Linked DNA regions of Homo sapiens: region 2 is linked to region 1. The links come from fine-mapping of genetic effects on gene expression. Tissue or cell type: monocytes. Region 1 holds a variant in brackets; the other region holds the start of a gene. All regions are shown on one strand. Distances are from middle to middle.

Region 1 (5,262 bases):
TGGTCAGAATTTAGTTGAAGCCACTGTAGTACAGGCTACAATACAAGCTACACCAGTCCACAGGCCTTTTGCTTTTAACAGGTTTTCATACTAATCACTGTGGAGAAGTAGAAGAAAGCAAGGTCTCAAAGATTAAGAAGTTACAAAACTAATCCACTTTACAAAACTCTTATAGCTATAGTTAATTATTTTTTATCCCACGCACATTGGTAGCTAGAAATTGCCCTTTAACTTCTGCTGCCTTCTTTTATTCTTGAGGGCAGATCTCACTAAATACTATTCCTTCCCATTGACTCCCATTAAATGAAAGTACACATCTAATTAGAGAAGAACTGGCATAAGTCAGCTCACGAGCTGTTGTTTAAATGAGTTATTTGCATTTTTGAGACTCTCCAGAGGGGTGAAACCTATTTCAGTGATCCATCTGGGCTCTTGCTGTAGTTTCTTAGAGTATCTGGGTTTTATTTGACAACCTAGAGAATAGTTTAGCACGGTACTTATTACAAGCTTTCACCTGAGCACTTTTAAACACAGAGGAGAATTAACTACTGTGTGGTAAGTCTATAGAAATAGCCCAAAGGAATACACACTCCCACACACAGGGGAACATACATTCATTCATCAATTCAAGGAGTTCTTCTTCCATAAAGAGAACTATATTTTTGGATCAAGTCTCTCCATAAATGTTCCCTAATCTGATTTGTGTCCTAATATAAAAGACAGTGAGATGGAATACATGAAGAACCTGAGCCTTATGTTAGATGGTCTTAGATTCAATTCATGGCCCAATAATTTGCTACCTATGTGGCCTTGGACAGGCAGAGTGAATTGCCTAGCCTTGATCTTCTCAATCTGATGATCTCATGGAGATTATAATAATATCTTATTCCATTGGGTTATTATGAAGATTAAATCAGTGATAAAATATGGGATTATGCCTAAGATACAGTCTGGCATGTTTTAGGAACTCAATAAATATTAGATTCTCCTCCTTGCATTTTTTTTCTCAGAACTTTAGAAACCAGAGGTAAGAACATCACAAAATAACAGATGACTCTGCTTACTCCAATATGTGCCAAGAAGCAAAAATGCCCAAGTGAACAATCTTATTTAGTAAGATACTGAAAGGAGATTCACCGTTCGATTAATGCAGCATGGATTTGTAAATACCCAGTTTACGCTCTTCTTTGGTCACTATCAAGTAAGAATGACATCACTCTTCACTTTGAACAATTGGGGGATATTTGGTTCACAGCTTTTAGACAAACCAGTATCTTTCCCTGAGGTCATTTTATGAAGAAAAACTTTAAAAAATAAAATATTTTTACTTTCAAAAACCATAGAAAGATATACATCTTATATGTGTGTGTATTTCTGTGTTTGTTGAGTGTATATTATATAAGTGTATATATGTGTGTGTGTGTTTGTGTATACACACACACACACACAGAGTTGACACTTTAGCAATGTAGGGCTTATGGGTGGCAACCCTCGTGTGGTCAAAAATTTGTGTATTACTTTTGATTCCCCGAAGACTTAACTACTAATAGCCTGCTGTTACTGGAAGCCCTATCAATAACATTAACAGTTGATTAATATACATTTTTATTCTGTGTATATTATATACTACAGTCTTACAATAAAGTAAGCTAGGGAAAAGAAAATGTTATAGAAAATCATATGGAAGAGAAAATATATTTACTATTTCTTAAGTAGAAGTGGATCATCGTAAAGGTCTTTATCCTCTTCATCTTCACGTTTAGTAGACTGAGGAGGAGGAGGGGTTGATTTTGCTGTCTCTGATGGAAGAGGTGGAGGAGGTAGAAGGGAAAGCAGGAGAGGCAGGCACAAATTGTGTAAATTTATGGAAATATATTGTATTTTCTCTTACTTTTTGCTTCTTCATTTTCCTAAAAATGTTTCTACATGGTATCAATCCTTCTTCAACTGTTTGCTTTAGTTTCAGTGTCTGTGTCCTAGAAGGGTCCTTGTTGTAAAAGAAGTCAAAAGCCCTCTTGAATAATTGGACCCCTTCTGCTAGATTGTCTAATGTCAGTTTGTTTTCTGGCACTGCATCTTCTACATCTTCCTAATCATCTGGCACTTGTTCAGAAGCACTCATCTCCATCAACTCATCTTTTGTTAATTCCTCTGGTGTTAAGTGTATTAGCTCCTTAATTTCTCCAATATCCATATCTTGAAACCCTTTACCCCCTACCTTTTTGGCCATATCCACAATCTCTTTTATGGTTTCCTTGATTGGCTCTGTTATAAATCTGCTAAAGTCATGTACGACATCAAGAAACAGTTTTCTTCAGCAGAAATTTATTGTTTTATTTATTGACTTGATGGTTTTCATAGCTTTTTCTATAACAATGATGGCATCGGTGGGGGGGAGCCAAGATGGAGGAATAGGAACAGCTCCCGTCTACAGCTCCCAGCGTGAGCGACGCAGAAGACGGGTGATTTCTGCATTTCCATCTGAGGTACCGGGTTCATCTCACTAGGGAGTGCCAGACAGTGGGTGCAGGACAGTGGGTGCAGCGCACCGCGCGAACCGAAGCAGGGCGAGGCATTGCCTCGCTCTGGAAGTGCAAGGGGTCAGGGAGTTCCCTTTCCTAGTCAAAGAAAGGGGTGACAGACGGCACCTGGAAAATCGGGTCACTCCCACCCCAATACTGCGCTTTCCGATGGGCTGAAAAAACAGTGCACCAGGAGATTATATCCTCACCTGGCTGGGAGGGTCCTACGCCCACGGAGTCTCGCTGATTGCTAGCACAGCAGTCTGAGATCAAGCTGCAAGGCGGCAGCGAGGCTGGGGGAGGGGCGCCCGCCATTGCCCAGGCTTGCTTAGGTAAACAAAGCAGCTGGGAAGCTCGAACTGGATGGAGCCCACCACAGCTCAAGGAGGCCTGCCTGCCTCTGTAGGCTCCACCTCAGGGGACAGGGCATAGACAAACAAAAA[G/A]ACAGCAGTAACCACTGCAGACATAAATGTCCCTGTCTGACAGCTTTGAAGAGAGCAGTGGTTCTCCCAGCATGCAGCTGGAGATCTGAGAATGGGCAGACTGCCTCCTCGCTTTGAAGAGAGCAGTGGTTCTCCCAGCATGCAGCTGGAGATCTGAGAACGGGCAGACTGCCTCCTCAAGTGGGTCCCTGACCCCTGACCCCCGAGCAGCCTAACTGGGAGGCACCCCCCAGTAGGGGCAGACTGACACCTCACACGGCCGGGTACTCCTCTGAGACAAAACTTCCAGAGGAACAATCAGACAGCAGCATTCGCGGTTCATGAAAATCCGCTGTTCTGCAGCCACTGCTGCTGGTACCCAGGCAAACAGGGTCTGGAGTAGACCTCTAGCAAACTCCAACACACCTGCAGCTGAGGGTCCTGTCTGTTAGAAGGAAAACTAACAAACAGAAAAGACATCCACACCAAAAACCGATCTGTACATCACCATCATCAAAGACCAAAAGTAGATAAAACCACAAAGATGGGGAAAAAACAGAGCAGAAAAACAGGAAACTCTAAAAAGCAGAGCACCTCTCCTCCTCCAAAGGAACACAGCTCCCCACCAGCGATGGAACAAAGCTGGATGGAGAATGACTTTGATGAGTTGAGAGAAGAAGGCTGCAGACGATCAAACTACTCCGAGCTACAGGAGGAAATTCAAACCAAAGGCAAAGAAGTTGAAAACTTTGGAAAAAATTTAGACGAATGTATAACTAGAATAAGCAATACAGAGAAGTGCTTAAAGGAGCTGATGGAGCTGAAAGTCAAGGCTCGAGAACTACCTGAAGAATGCAGAAGGCTCAGGAGCTGACGCAATCAACTGGAAGAAAGGGTGTCAGTGATGGAAGATGAAATGAATGAAATGAAGTGAGAAGGGAAGTTTAGAGAAAAAAGAATAAAAAGAAACAAACAAAGACTCCAAGAAATGTGGGACTATATGAAAAGACCAAATCTACGTCTGATTGGTGTACCTGAAAGTGACGGGGAGAAGGGAACCAAGTTGGAAAACATTCTGCAGGATATTATCCAGGAGAACTTCCCCAATCTAGCAAGGCAGGCCAACATTCAGATTCAGGAAATACAGAGAATGCCACAAAGATATTCCTCAAGAAGAGCAACTCCAAGACACATAATTGTCAGATTCACCAAAGTGGAAATGAAGGAAAAAATGTTAAGGGCAGCCAGATAGAAAGGTCGGGTTACCCACAAAGGGAAGCCCATCAGACTAACAGCGGACCTCTCGGCAGAAACTCTACAAGCCAGAAGAGAGTGGGGGCCAATATTCAACATTCTCAAAGAAAAGAATTTTCAACCCAGAATTTTATATCCAGCCAAACTAAGCTTCATAAGTGAAGGAGAAATAAAATCCTTTACAGACAAGCAAATGCTGAGAGATTTTGTCACCACCAGGCCTGCCCTAAAAGAGCTCCTGAAGGAAGCACTAAACATGGAAAGGAATAACCGGTACCAGCCACTGCAAAATCATGCCAAATTGTAAAGACCACCAAGGCTAGGAAGAAACTGCATCAACTAACGAGCAAAATAACCAGCTAACATCATAATGACAGGATCAAATTCACACATAACAATATTAACTTTAAATGTAAATGGACTAAATGCTCCAGTTAAAAGACACAGACTGGTAAATTGGATAAAGAGTCAAGACCCATCAGTGTGCTGTATTCAGGAAACCCATCTCACATGCAGAGACACATATAGGCTCAAAATAAAAGGATGGAGGAAGATCTACCAAGCAAATGGAAAACAAAAAAATGCAGGGGTTGCAATCCTAGTCTCTCATAAAACAGACTTTAAACCAACAAAGATCAAAAGAGACAAAGAAGGCCATTACTTAATGGTAAAGGGATCAATTCAACAAGAAGAGCTAACTATCCTATATATATATGCACCCAATAAAGGCACACCCAGATTCATAAAGCAAGTCCTGAGTGACCTACAAAGAGACTTAGACTCCCACACAATAATAATGGGAGACTTTAACACCCCACTGTCAACTTTAGACAGATCAACGAGACAGAAAGTTAACAAGGATACCCAGGAATTGAACTCAGCTCTGCACCAAGCGGACCTAATAGACATCTACAGAACTCTCCACCCCAAATCAATACAATATACATTTTTTTCAGCACCACACCACACCTATTCCAACATTGACCACACACTTGGAAGTAAAGCTCTCCTCAGCAAATGTAAAAGATTAGAAATTATAACAAACTGTCTCTCAGACCACAGTG
Region 2 (5,000 bases), 260 kb before region 1:
GCTCTCCAGGGTTGGTGGGACTGAAAATTCTAGGGGTAAGGACTGTCGCCTTAGGAGAGTCATTAAAAAGGGTTGTGAGGAGGGGTCCCCTGGAGTCAGAGGCTGGTAGAGCTCTGGAGAGAGCATGTGGGGAGCTCACCCATGACAGGGGAGCTGTCTCCTTCAGCAGCGTGGCTGACTCCAGACCCCCAAGAAGGCTGTGGATTACTCCCACAGTCAGCCCAACCAGCAGCAAGGAGTTGGCTGGGTGGTCTTGATACAGGAGGAGGAATAAGGGATTGTCACCTGGGATTCAGGCATGGCTTTCAGGGAGTATCCACAAACCCTCAGGGATTGCATGTAAAATTTTATGTACATGCCATATGCATTTTGCCCCAGGAAGAGGACTCACAGCTAATTCTCAAAAGGACCTATCACCCCTAATTTTTAAGAACCACTGAAATTAATATTTTCATCTGCTCCTCTCTTGCACTATTCAGCACTTCCACCTCATTAAACATTTATATATATATTATATATATTTCTATAATATATATATATAATTAATTAATTCCCTAAACTTTGCAGAAAAAAAATCGAAGCCCAGAGAGGGTAAGTATCTTGCCCAAGTTTGCACAGCTGATGGTCAGGATTGGGATTAGCAGCACTTCCCTGGTCAAGTGAAGCACGATTTCAGGTGGGAAATCTTGCCCGGTCAACTTGACAAATGAAGACAAAGTGATCCCTCCAGACTAATAATAATGTTTTGCAACCATTTTCAAGTCCAGTCATAGAATCCCCTACGTTGCTTGTTTTCAGGGCAGTGTGGGTTGCTTCCCCAGGATACAGGTAGAGGTCACTAAAAGGATAGTTTTCTACTCAAAGAGCCAGAACTCCAGCCCTTGCCTTCCCCTGCCGTAGCACTCGGGCCGGCCCTCCAGTTACCTGAGTTTGCCTGACTTTAACCAACTCCTCTTCCCTTCCCTCCTCCCTTCTCCAGCGGGCTCTCCTTCCAGCTTCCTCCCGGGCTGCAATTCCTCTGCCTAGGTGCCTCCGTCCAGCTCCGGCTTCTGGCCCGGAGGCTGCTCATCTGCCCCTACCCCCGCTGACTTTTGGGAGGAGCAACACCTTTCAGGTCAGCATTGCTAACCCTAAACTTTCCCCGCCGGATGCCCGCGAGGCTGCTGCGGCGGCGGCTGCTGCTGATGGGAGAGTCTCGAGTCCGGCTTTCATCACATCACCTGTCTGCGCCCCTTCCCCCTCCCCGCTCTTTTTTTCTTTTCTTTTTATTTTGACGCAAATAATTTGCATTCTGAGAATCCCACAATCAACGCCGAAACTCATGCTCAAGGATACAGGTGAAGATGCCTTTGACAAAGGCGAATGCGAGCCGAGTGCAGTTTGTAAAAGCTGGGGTTGGGGGCAGTGGTGGAGGCAAAGCACCTTAAGAGTATTTTTTAGCCCCTCTGAGAAGGGACATCCGGGCGGGAGGCGGGCGGATCCCGGGCTTCCCCGCCGGCTGCCGACTCTGGCTCCTGGCTGGCGTTCTCTCCAGGAGCCCGCGCCGGTGGCCCCGCTCTCCCCTTCAGCACGCGGGCCTCGAACCCGCATCCCGGAGAGCGGCCGCCCGCGCAGCCCCTGCCGCGCGCCGTCGGAGGCGGCCTCAGCTCGCCATGGGTACTCACTTTTGCCAGGGAGCAAAGTCTGCCACATCAGTCGATGAGTACTTCCTGCACGAGGACATGAAGCTCCATTGTGTGGAAAGCTGTTTCGCGAACGGTCGGTAAAATCCAGAAAGAGGGAGAAGGAGTGAGTAAGGCAGAAAGCCCAGCCCAGAAAACCGGCGTCTGGGGATTTCAGCCTCCGCTCCCCGGTCCCCAGCCCGGTGGCTCTGTGAGAAGAAGCTCAACTCGGTGCACTTGTTCACTCTTTCTTCATGAGAGGAGGAGTCAGTGTTGCAACATTTATGTTCCTTGCTGGAGGCAAAACAGTGATTTTCTTCAGCATGCAAAACGTCCAGAGCCTGCCAGTTTTAGAAGGCGACGGAGGTAGTTGGGGGAGCTGGAATCCTGCGAAGACCTGAAGAAACAACTGATTCCCCCCAGATCGGTTTTGCATGATTAGGGCCACATATCTTTCATTGAGACTGTACCAGAAAATAGACAGACAAAACAATAATAAAAATGACTTAGTGAGTTGAATGACCTCAAAGATGATATTTTTCCAGGCAGCCAAGATGTGGAGTGTCTCCGTGTCAAATTTCTTTCCTTATTTCTGAGTAACATTGAACAGCAGCTATATTTGAGAGGTTCTCCAGGGATTTGAATTGCACCTTGCCTGAGGAGTCAGATAGAAAGGAGCAAAAGAAGATAGTCAGTGACCTAAGAAGGTTTTGCTTTTTTTTTTTTTTAATACCCAAAGCGCAAACTTCTAGTGTGCTGTGTTTATTCTCTGCCATATGAATATAATAAACATTGGCGGTGCCTAAATAGCCCCACTTCTGTTGTTTTCCACAAATAAAGAATTTATCTTTTCTAATGGGCTGCATGTTGTTCTGACTTTTCTTCTTCTTGAAACCACACACAACCGCCTTTTCTCTTGCAAAAACAAAAACCCCACATTTAACAGTGCTGAAACAAATAATAGCACCTGCCTGAATCAAATAGTTATTTCTGACTATGTATGTTGCTGGTGTCATTTGATGCCATAATAATTAATGCATCCGATTGTTACACAACCCAGAGGGCCACCAAGGAAATACTTTAAACCAAGGTTACTGAGTTTTTTTTTTTGTTTGTTTTTGTTTGTTTTTTTGAGACAGAGTCTCGCTCTGTCGCTCAGGCTGGATTGCAGTGACCCCATCTCGGCTCACTGGAACCTCTGCCTCCTGGATTCAAGCAATTGTCCTGCTTCAGCCTCCCGAGTAGGTGGGACTACAGGCGCGTGCCACCATGTCCGGCTAGTTTTTTGTATTTTTAGTAGAGATGAGGTTTCACCCTGTTAGCCAGGATGGTCTTGATTTCCTGACCTCATGATCCACCCACCTTGGCCTCCTGAAGTGCTGGGATTACAGGCGTGAGCCACTGCGCCTGGCCGTTTTTTTTTTTGTTTTGTTTTAAGTTATTGAAACATGAGGCTTTCCCCTTTGATTTGACTGCTACTCTGGATAACTGGGAAATCACAGTTAGCAGTGAGCATTTGCCAAGCCACAGGAAGCCATTGAAAATCCCATGATGCTTTGGTGATCCTTTTGGACTGGAATCCCAGAAGCAACTACCTAGGCATAATAACCTAATACTTCCTGATCAATAACACGTCCTTATTAAAACATAGACTCCACCTGGTTCTGTTAGCTGATGGGAGATGCATCTTTCACGTGCAGACCGCACATGCTTCCTGTGATGATTAGGGTATATTTACTTTCATTCATGGGTGTCCATGAAGGTACGCAACTTCTATTTATTTTCAGAACCACTGGGCGACATGAGATCCTCAGTGGCAGAATATTTCTATATGACCTTTGCAAAGCAAAGGGTCACTCAATTCTACAATAGTTGTTCTAATCAGACTATTTTAACAGTTAGTGAAATAGAAGATCACTCTGGGTAACTCCAGACTGTCAGCTCTTAGAAGGCAGGGACTTGGCTTTTCCTCCTTGTGGTTCCCACTCAGCTGCAGGCAGCTTGGCTCGTCTGTACTCCTGGCTTACAGACTGGTCGTTGCGTGGCTAATCCATACCTCACTGGTAAGAAGGGCAGGGCTGGCTTTCTGCTCTGTTGTGTAGCACACAGGCACTGTCACAAAGCCACGGGTACTCATTGTCAGTGAGTTACCTTGCCCCAGCTTTCCTGAGATGATGAAATCCGCAGTGAGCCACTATATTTTCCTTTTCTGCCCCACAGTGGTTCTTTGACTATCTCCTTCTCTCTATGCACTGATGTGCTCCAGCTTCACAGCTTCTTTACTGATGTCCTCCTCTAGTTCATTTCTGCATCTCTGTCTTAGCGGACGTGTTCGTCCTTTGCAAGCTGACTCCCTACCTGAGTCCTGGACTCCATATCCGTTTACTTCCTCCAAGACCTTGCTTCTCAGCCTGATGCAGAGGAAGAGCCCAGCACTGGCACTGGGTTAGGTCCTTGCTATTCTTGGTTTCTCACTGTAAATTGGACACAGTAGCATGTGCCTCAAAAATCCAGTCAAATGAATAATAATGGTGATGGCATATGTAAAATGTGTGCCATCTAACAAAGTCTAGAAACATCAAGTTCCTTTCTTTCCTTCCCCTTTCCTCTACCTTTCTTGCATATTTAATCTTTTCTGCCCCATAGGCTTCTTTATCTCAACCTACAACTTCTACATCTTCTTTGACCCTTTTGATGGCTTTACAGTTTAATTCACTCATTTCTTTACCTGCCAATCTTAGTGAAAGAATGACTTACGCACACCAGCTTTCCTTACTTACTTCCCTCTCAGTGCCTTAACTCACTGGTTCTCAACCTTGGCTGTGAACAAGAATCACCTGAGTGTTTAAAATGTACTGTGTCTGGGTGTCACTTGCAGAGCTTCTAATGCAGGAGGTTTAGAATGGGGCTCTGACTTCTCTGTTTTTACAAAAATGCACAGGCAGGGTGGAAAATGGCTCCCTTGAATTCTTTGCACCTGGCTTTCATCACTACCACTCACTGGCTGCTCTCTGGGAGGGCCCTCCAGGCCTCTCTGCAGCACTGGGCTTCGGTTCACTTCCTCCTCTTGAAGTTCTCACGCCTTGGCTTCCAGGCCTCTGCCATCCTCTGGCGGGAGCCTCCCCTCTGTCTGTGGCATTCCTCTGTTGGTTTCTGCCGTGGCTCCTTTTCTCTCTCCTCCTTCTCAAATAGGGAAGGAGTTTTATCATTGCTACTTCATTTGTCTTCTTTGAGAACCACATTTCTTTTTTTTTTTTTTTTTTTTTGGTTTTAAGGAGTGGAGAGGTTAATAGGCAAGAAGGGTCAAGAAGGAAAGGGAGAAGGAAGAAAGAAGAAGCT

Alleles and levels. Alleles are on the strand shown, and positions count from the first base shown. SD is a standard deviation of normalised expression in the study named.
For the expression in monocytes of the gene that starts at base 1,884 in region 2, allele G in region 1 goes with a lower level than allele A (large effect, 2.0 SD a copy in Quach 2016).

Evidence for each region. PIP is the estimated chance that this variant, and not a neighbour inherited with it, causes the effect.
Region 2: PRLR starts here. The variant in region 1 is fine-mapped to the expression of PRLR in monocytes (Quach 2016, PIP 0.95). The same link has a PIP of 0.9 or more in monocytes after LPS and monocytes after R848.

The regions. Positions count from the first base shown.
Region 1 is chr5:35,491,787-35,497,048 of GRCh38, forward strand. No RefSeq gene overlaps it. Among named protein-coding and RNA genes, the nearest start is that of SPEF2, 120 kb to the right of the region's middle. The variant G/A (reference allele first, on the strand shown) is at 2,966.
Region 2 is chr5:35,228,604-35,233,603 of GRCh38, forward strand. PRLR (prolactin receptor) reads right to left here and starts at 1,884. Exons shown (of 10, transcript NM_000949.7): 1 at 1,665-1,884.